Linked DNA regions of Homo sapiens. The protein of the gene in region 1 interacts with the protein of each later gene in a pairwise test. Each region holds a gene or a part of one and is shown on either strand. Other genes may lie near its edges.

Region 1 (4,206 bases):
CGAGCACGACTCCGCCCTTGGCACTGGCCTCCAGCAAGCCCTGTTCTCTTTGGGGTACAGGGGAACGGGATGGTTTAGACTTTCCTGCTCAGTGTGTAAAAAATGTAGCTAAAGCCACTATTTTTGCTCTCCTTAAGCTGTTCAATAAACCGGTTCCTCATTTTACACGTGCATGATGTGTATCTTCTTTGCTGGATGGGCCAGGAAACTGGAGTGGTCCTCTCAGCCAGCCTCAGAGGAAAGAAATCTCTAGCTGGCACAGGCAGCCAGTGAGTGAGGCTGGCGGCTGCAGGGGCACAGCCTTTAGAATGAGTCCTTCAGTGCACAGGTCCCAGGGTATACGGGGTAGTGGGAGGAAGGAGGGGACGCCTCGCAGATGCCACTGTTGGCTGGGCTACACCTTGCCACACTTGTTACTGCTTAGGAGGCTTTCTGGAGTGTTCCTTGGGTGCTACGACAATCTGCAGCAGACACTGTCCTTTCACCGCTCCTGGTCCTCGTTTGCTCCCCAGTGATGTCAACAGCTGAGGACTGCTCACGCTGCAACAAAAGGCTCTGCAGTCGCTGTCTAGCTTGCCCTAGTCGTCTCTAGAGTTCTGCCTGAACTGAAACTCAAGTGGGGTTCAGCTCATGACTTGTGGCAATTGACCAGGAAATTCACCAGTTGCTGTGGCTGGAAGGATTTTCAGTCCTGTGGGTTGTAACCAGAGGCCACAGGTGGATTCTGCCTTAGGCTCATGAGATTTCCGACTTGCTGTTGAAGAAAATGCCTTGTGAAGTGACAACAGTAGCTCTGACCCAACTGCCGGTGCCTCGCTAGTTCCTATACGTCCCACTGGATCCTCACAGCCCCGGGAAGCAGGTGCTACTACTCTTATCCCCGGGAGGAGACAGAGGCCGAGAGAGGTTAAGTGACGTGCCCAAGTCACACAGCTCGGCAGCGGCCGGGTTGAGCATCAGCAGTCTGTTTGCAGACCCCTCACTGTCACCCCCTGAGCCAGTGCGCCTTGGGCCCTGCGGTCAGGATGTCTCAAGCGTGGAGGCATCACCGGTTCGTGGCAGTCTCTGGAAGGTCACTGAGCTCTGTGCCCAGAATCGAGTCGGGGGAGTCTGTGCAGAGGTGGCCCTGTGTGTGGGGACAGTGTGTGACACAGACACTGCTTTGGATGGACACCTCTCCCGTGACCTCCTAGCATCCAATCCCAAAGGAACAACTGTTGCAGAGATGGACCGCTGGACACAAACCCACGTGCGTTTCTCTGGAGACACTGGCCAAGGAAAACAAAACATGCTCGAAGGCCAACAGCTGCATGCCCCACCGCGATGTGACCGCAGACACCCGGGGTGTAGAAGGGTCTCTGCCTGGTGGGGGGACACGTGCAGGCCGAGGAGAGGCAGGAAGGAGGCTGCCTCCGACTCCCCACTGGACTGCATGGCGACGGCGTGTGGTGGGGCAGTCAGCTAAGCCATTTGCCTAAGGGGCTGTCGGGCATCTGCGTGCTGGGGACCGACAGTGTGGGTGTGTTAGGAGGATCTGTATGGAGCACATTGCTGCCTCTGGCTAGGACAGGGTGGAAAGGGTGGCGTGGCTACAGCCTGACCCATGGGCACCGTCCTACCCTTTGTTCTGTGCTTCCGAGTGTCAGTCATGTGCTGGGGTCTGTGGGCCCATGACTCAGACGGTGAGCTCTGACCTTCCTGAGCCAGGGCTTTGCTGTAGTTGTGCCTGGCTCAGGAGCTCTAGGACAAGGGGACCGCTCCAGGTCTGCATCTACGGTGTGGCAGGGCCCCTCGGCACTCTTGTGCACTAGTGTCATCTTTCCCATTGAAATGACTGTGAGGACCAGAATGTGCACATGCAGATGGGCAGCTACTTGTCTGCCTTGGCCCTTTATTACACAACTTGCTGGGGGTGGAGATGCCACCCCCCGGCAGTCAGAGCCCCTTTATGATGTCATGGGGCTGGTTACATGACTGCCAAGGGGTGCTGCTGGCCACACTGCACTAGCAAGTTTGCCAGATGGAGGACAAGCGATCATTGAGTATGGCTCGCTGTGAAGAAAGAAATTCGAGAGGACAGGATCATGGCTTGGAAAGGGTGCCTTTCCCTCCCCAGTTGCAGTCAGAGACCTACCTTCACCCAGCAGATCCTTCCCCTGCCTGGGACGACCCGGGGTCCACTGGGAGCCCTAACTTGAGGCTGCTGACAGAAGAAATCGCTTTCCAACCTCTGGCCGAGGAAGCTTCGTTCAGAAGGCCGCACCCTGACGGTGACGTCCCGCCCCAGGGAGAAGATAATCTCCTCTCCCTCCCCTTTCCACAGAAACTGTGGAGACTGGTCAGCAGCAACCAGTTTTCGTCCATCTGGTGGGATGACAGTGGGGCTTGTAGAGTGATCAATCAAAAACTCTTTGAAAAGGAGATTCTCAAAAGGGACGTCGCACACAAAGTGTTTGCCACAACTTCGATAAAGAGCTTCTTCCGCCAGCTAAACTTGTATGGCTTCCGAAAACGGCGTCAATGCACTTTCAGGACCTTCACCCGCATTTTCTCCGCAAAAAGGCTGGTCTCCATCTTGAATAAGGTAATGAACGACAAGCCTCTGGAGGGGTTAAGTCGGTGGGCTCTGGGGCCTGGTCGGGTGGAAGTCCCAGGACTGCCTCCTGGGAAGTGGGCGACCTCAGGCAGGGTGTGGGGCCATCGCTGTGGGCCTGTGTCCCCCTCTGGGTGGAGGTGACATGAACTAAGAGTGAATGTGGGGAGAGGGCTGAGGATGGTGCGGGCCCCTCTCGAGTGTGTAAAATATCACAGGTGCCAAGTAGCCGTATCTGCGTGTCGTCCTCCCCGGGGCCAGCCATGTCATCTGGCGGTTGCTGTGTCCCCCTGACTCCACAGCACATTACCCTGTGAGGTGAGCAGGCCAGGGGAGTCTGGTATTTGTACCACTGTCACCCTAGCTGGTGTCTGGAGAGGTGCTCAAGTGGAAGCACTGAAGGGCGCCTGGCGCAGGAGGTGCAGATGCTCCTGCTGCCCTTGGTAGGTGGGCCCCTGGTGTGGAAGAGCCAGTACCCAGGGCCTCCAACCCAGCCGGGGTGCATTCTGTTGCCAGCTGACACTGCATGGGGGAGGCCCAGAATCTTCTTCCCTCCTGGTCTGCAACTTCAAAGACCCTTTCCGCCGGCCATGGACACCCTAATCTGCCATTTTGAGGCTTTTTCCAAGACGGAAAGGCCCGCCACAACTTGGTAAACCTTGACGATGTGAACGCGAGTCCCCAGCTTCCTTTGGGGACTGGGACCTTTTCCAGAAAGGCCTCCTGGGCCAGTAGAGTTCTCTTGCACAGGGGCGTAGATGGTTGGTAGTTGTAGTCCATCCTTGTGACTTGCAGTTTCCTTTTGTTTATTTAAACTTTGACTTATAGTTAGAGTTCTACTGCCATCCTTACTTTCAAAGAGACTCCCCTCACCTCCTCGTGAGGATGAAGAGAAGAGTGGGTGTCAAGTCTGCACCAAGACATCAGGAGGAGGACAAGCCAGAAGCTGCTGGATCCTGTCTGGCACCAGCAGACACTGAGCAACAAGATCACACGTCTCCGAATGAGAATGACCAGGTCACACCGCAACACCGGGAACCGGCCGGTCCCAACACCCAAATCAGGAGTGGCTCTGCTCCACCAGCAACTCCTGTGATGGTGCCTGATTCCGCCGTGGCGAGTGACAACAGTCCAGTGACCCAGCCGGCCGGCGAGTGGTCAGAGGGCAGCCAGGCTCACGTCACTCCGGTGGCCGCTGTCCCTGGGCCTGCAGCGCTGCCCTTCCTCTATGTCCCTGGATCTCCCACTCAGATGAATTCTTACGGGCCTGTGGTGGCCCTTCCCACAGCGTCCCGTAGTACCCTTGCCATGGACACCACAGGACTTCCTGCACCTGGCATGCTGCCCTTTTGCCATCTCTGGGTACCGGTGACCCTAGTGGCTGCTGGGGCTGCACAGCCTGCTGCCTCCATGGTCATGTTCCCCCATCTCCCAGCTCTGCACCACCATTGCCCCCACAGCCACCGCACGTCACAGTACATGCCAGCTAGCGATGGGCCCCAGGCGTACCCAGACTACGCAGACCAGAGCACATAGAGGGCAGCATTTGGGCAGAATATGTGCTGGTCAATAAATGTGTCAGAAAATGAGTAATTTTCTGACTGCACAAAAAA
Region 2 (3,500 bases), on another chromosome or scaffold:
CCTGGGCTCCAGCCATCTCCCACCTCGGTCTCCCAAGTAGCTGGGATGGCAGGCACATGGCCATGATCAGCTATTTTTTTTTTTTTTAATTTATTTAGTGGAGACAGGGTCTCACTATGTTGCAGGCTGGTGTCAAATGATCCTCCCACCTTAGCCTGCCAAAGTGCTGGGATTACAGGCATGAGCCACTGCACCTAGCCCCATTACCCCATTAATGTCCTTTGATGGAAAAGTAAAGTGAAGGTCAGAGAAGAAAAGTGACCTGCCTAAGATTAGCAAATAACAGGGATGGTCTGTGTGATTCCAAAACCCTGGTTCATTGTGCTGCATCCCACCATATAAAAGGCATGCAGGCTGAAAGAGATTTCCTTTTTCTGTTGTTTTATTCACTCCTCAACCTCTACTTCCTAACACTCTTCTTTTTCCCTTTCCATACACCCACAATGACCTGAAACACTTTTGGCTTACTTTTTTATTTTGCATGCTTTAAGGATTCTTTTTAATACACAGGTATTTCTCCATAACAGTTTATACGCATTTGTATATAAGCATACACTACAAAATGATTAATTGAGCGTTGTATGTTTTTATCAAAGGAAACAATGCAAAGATTTCTCCAAAGTGCTGTTTGACTAGAGATGATTAATTTTAATTTTCACATGAGCGGTATAATGCTATTAATCATTTAATATGTTTAATCATAATCTCTGTAATTCCTAATTAGGTTCATTAAACTGAAACATCCAGCAGTTATACACAAATCCAAATCTATGTTTCCTTCTCAGGATAAGAAGGAGCTCATTTTGTTTTTGCATTGAAACGGGAACTTCTAACAGGATGGAAGAGAATGGACTGGAAGCTTAGGGTTTCAGCTACAGCATCTGTAAACTCCGAGTCTGGGTGTAGAGTACTAAAACCCCTTAACTTCTGAAAAGTGACAGTTGCAGGATTCGAGCTCATTTCTGTGTCATGGACGTGGCACCAAACCTCGTATTCTCAGCGGAGAAAACGCAAATTCTGCTCTGTTTGGGTTTCAGTGTTACAGTGTTGCTCTTCGACTATCACATGAAGGCGGCGACATTGATTGTACACTTCTTCATGCATTTGTTTATTCGTGTACTAATAATTCATTCGGTCAGTGAGTGAGCCAACTGTTAAACAGACATTTATCATTTGTGTTACAAGCTGGTCATACCACACTCCTGCTGTGACCCTTAGGTGGCTCCTTATTGCTCTTAGGATGAAGCTCAGACTCTTGCTTTGCACAGTGTCCTTTGATCTAGCCCCTTGACTATCTTTGAAACCTGTCCTCCTGCCTTCCCTTCATACATGCCTCATCTGACCAGTGGTGCTGGAGTCCACACATACTCTCCTGAATCCAAGACATCATTTCACATCTCTGCACATCTGCACATGCACTGCCCTGTCTTGGAATAGCCTCAGTCCTTTTCACCTCTTCTCTTAGACATCTCCCACTTAACGTTTAACCTCCAGAATTGGCAAGCCTGGCTGAACCTCCAGCAGTGTCATATGACCTTGATTTAAGGTTACTCAGCCCTTTGTGATTGCCTCTTATCCCAACATTTACCAGTCTCTGGGGATGGTGGCTCACGCCTGTAGTCCCAGTGCTTTGGGAGGCAGAGGCAGAGGCAGGAGGATCACTTGAGGCCAGAGGTTCAAGACCAGCCTGGGCAACTTAGTGTGACCCAGGCTCTGCAAATAAAAATTAGCTGGGTATAATGGCTCATGCCTGTAATCCTAGCTACTTGGAAGGCTGATGTGGCAAGATTGAGCCCAGGATTTCAAGGCTTCAGTGAGCCGTGATTGTGCCATGGCATTCCAGCCTGAGTGACAGAGCAAGACCCAACTCCAAGAAAACAACAACAAAAGACAATGACAAAATGATTCTATTTATGATTGTTTTTCTCTATTGGTGTCATGCACTAAAGTTGGAATTGCATGTGACAAGGAGGGCTGATTTATGTGTCCAACACAAAGCAGTTGCTCAGTAAAGATGTGTAAACACTTTAAAAATAAGCAAATGAAAACCTTTCCTTCGTGTTTCTCAAAGGAGGTTTATTTCTCTTTTTGGTATTTAAAAAACTTGCCATCATTCTAAACATTTCGTCACTTTCCATTTATTGAATACATACCAGGAACTTGGCCAAGTTAGCACACATTAATCAATCACAAAGCCTCAAAAGGTATGAACTCATTATTCTTTATTTACCAGTTAAGAAAATGACCACTGTACTGCTTCCTATTCAATCCAACAGTATAGGCAAAATGACTAAATACATTGTCTAAATACATGACTTGCACTTAAAAGCTGAAGTCAACTGGTAGGTCTTTTGATACCAGAGCATCTTGGAAGAATGGTTTGCCAGCTAACAAGATGTCTTTATTTCAAAATGCGATTCAGGGTGTGTTAGGAAGGAAAATGCAAATGAAACCTTCCAGTACATACCAGGGCTGATGAGAAACTTGCTAATTATGCCCATGTTATCTGAGTGTTTGTTTTGTATTTCACTTTGTAAGATTGTCTTCTCTCGGTCGTTATTATTTTACACCTGGCTGCCTACATTGATAGTTTTGTCCCAATTATGTACTTCTAGATTGCTTATAAACAGGTCAGGATGATTCCTCACTCATAAATTTGATAGGCTTCTGTGTAAGCTTTCTATCATAGTTTCAAAGTTGGTATCTGATGTGGATGGCATTTACTGCCAGCTGGAGGCAATAGTTGCTAATTGCAGAGAAGTATCAAATGCTAAATGTCTGAAATGTTAAAACTCTAGAACCGAGAGTATGGCAGTGGCTATAATGATACCTAATGTGACTGTGACTTTTCCCCTCGTTCCTGCCAAATATGTGGGTGTCAATGTAACGTCATGTTATACAGCCTTATTTGGAAGACAGGGGAGGTGAAACAATCAGTTATGCTGATGATGTTACATGGTCTAGGCAAACAGAGCACAACAGCACTTTCTGCAGAGATGGAAACGTTCTGTATTTGCATTATTCAGTATGGAAGCAATAACTACATGTGGTTCTTGAGCGCTTGAAATGCAGCTAATGCAAACAAAGTTAAATATCTTGTTTTAATTCAGTTAAATGTAAATTGTCACATGTGGTCAACTGTAGTGGACAGCAAAAGTTTGTACAATTAGAACCTCAAAAGAATAAGTCAATCAGCTGGTTATTTGAACTCCAGAATGCCAACTAGTCTTTTCACATTTTTTACATTTAATTATGTTTTATCTGCACAATTACCTGAACAATTATGTAGGCATATCTTCAGATTCTGAACAGCGTCGGTTAAGAAATACACACTGTCCTGCCTTTAAAGATTATTACCCCCTTCTTGATGAGGTTCTCGCTCCCCACCTCCCAACCCCAGCAGCTCCCAGTCCCCTTCCTTTGCTTTTTCTAGCCTATAGTGCTTTTCTCTGTCTGCCAACACTCTATCTATGGATTTATTGTCTGTGTTGCCCTCATGA

What was found.
Region 2: the proteins of HSFX1 (region 1) and RBFOX1 interact in a two-hybrid assay, tested with the Homo sapiens proteins (one large-scale study listed by BioGRID).

What each region holds. Positions count from the first base shown.
Region 1 is NC_000023.11:149,772,662-149,776,867, forward strand, and holds HSFX1 (heat shock transcription factor, X-linked), read left to right. Parts: upstream 1-1,406; 5' UTR 1,407-2,020; coding exon 2,021-2,584; intron 2,585-3,421; coding exon 3,422-4,129; 3' UTR 4,130-4,206.
Region 2 is NC_000016.10:7,576,024-7,579,523, forward strand, and holds part of RBFOX1 (RNA binding protein fox-1 homolog 1), read left to right. Parts: intron 1-3,500. UniProt on the Homo sapiens protein: RNA-binding protein that regulates alternative splicing events by binding to 5'-UGCAUGU-3' elements. Regulates alternative splicing of tissue-specific exons and of differentially spliced exons during erythropoiesis.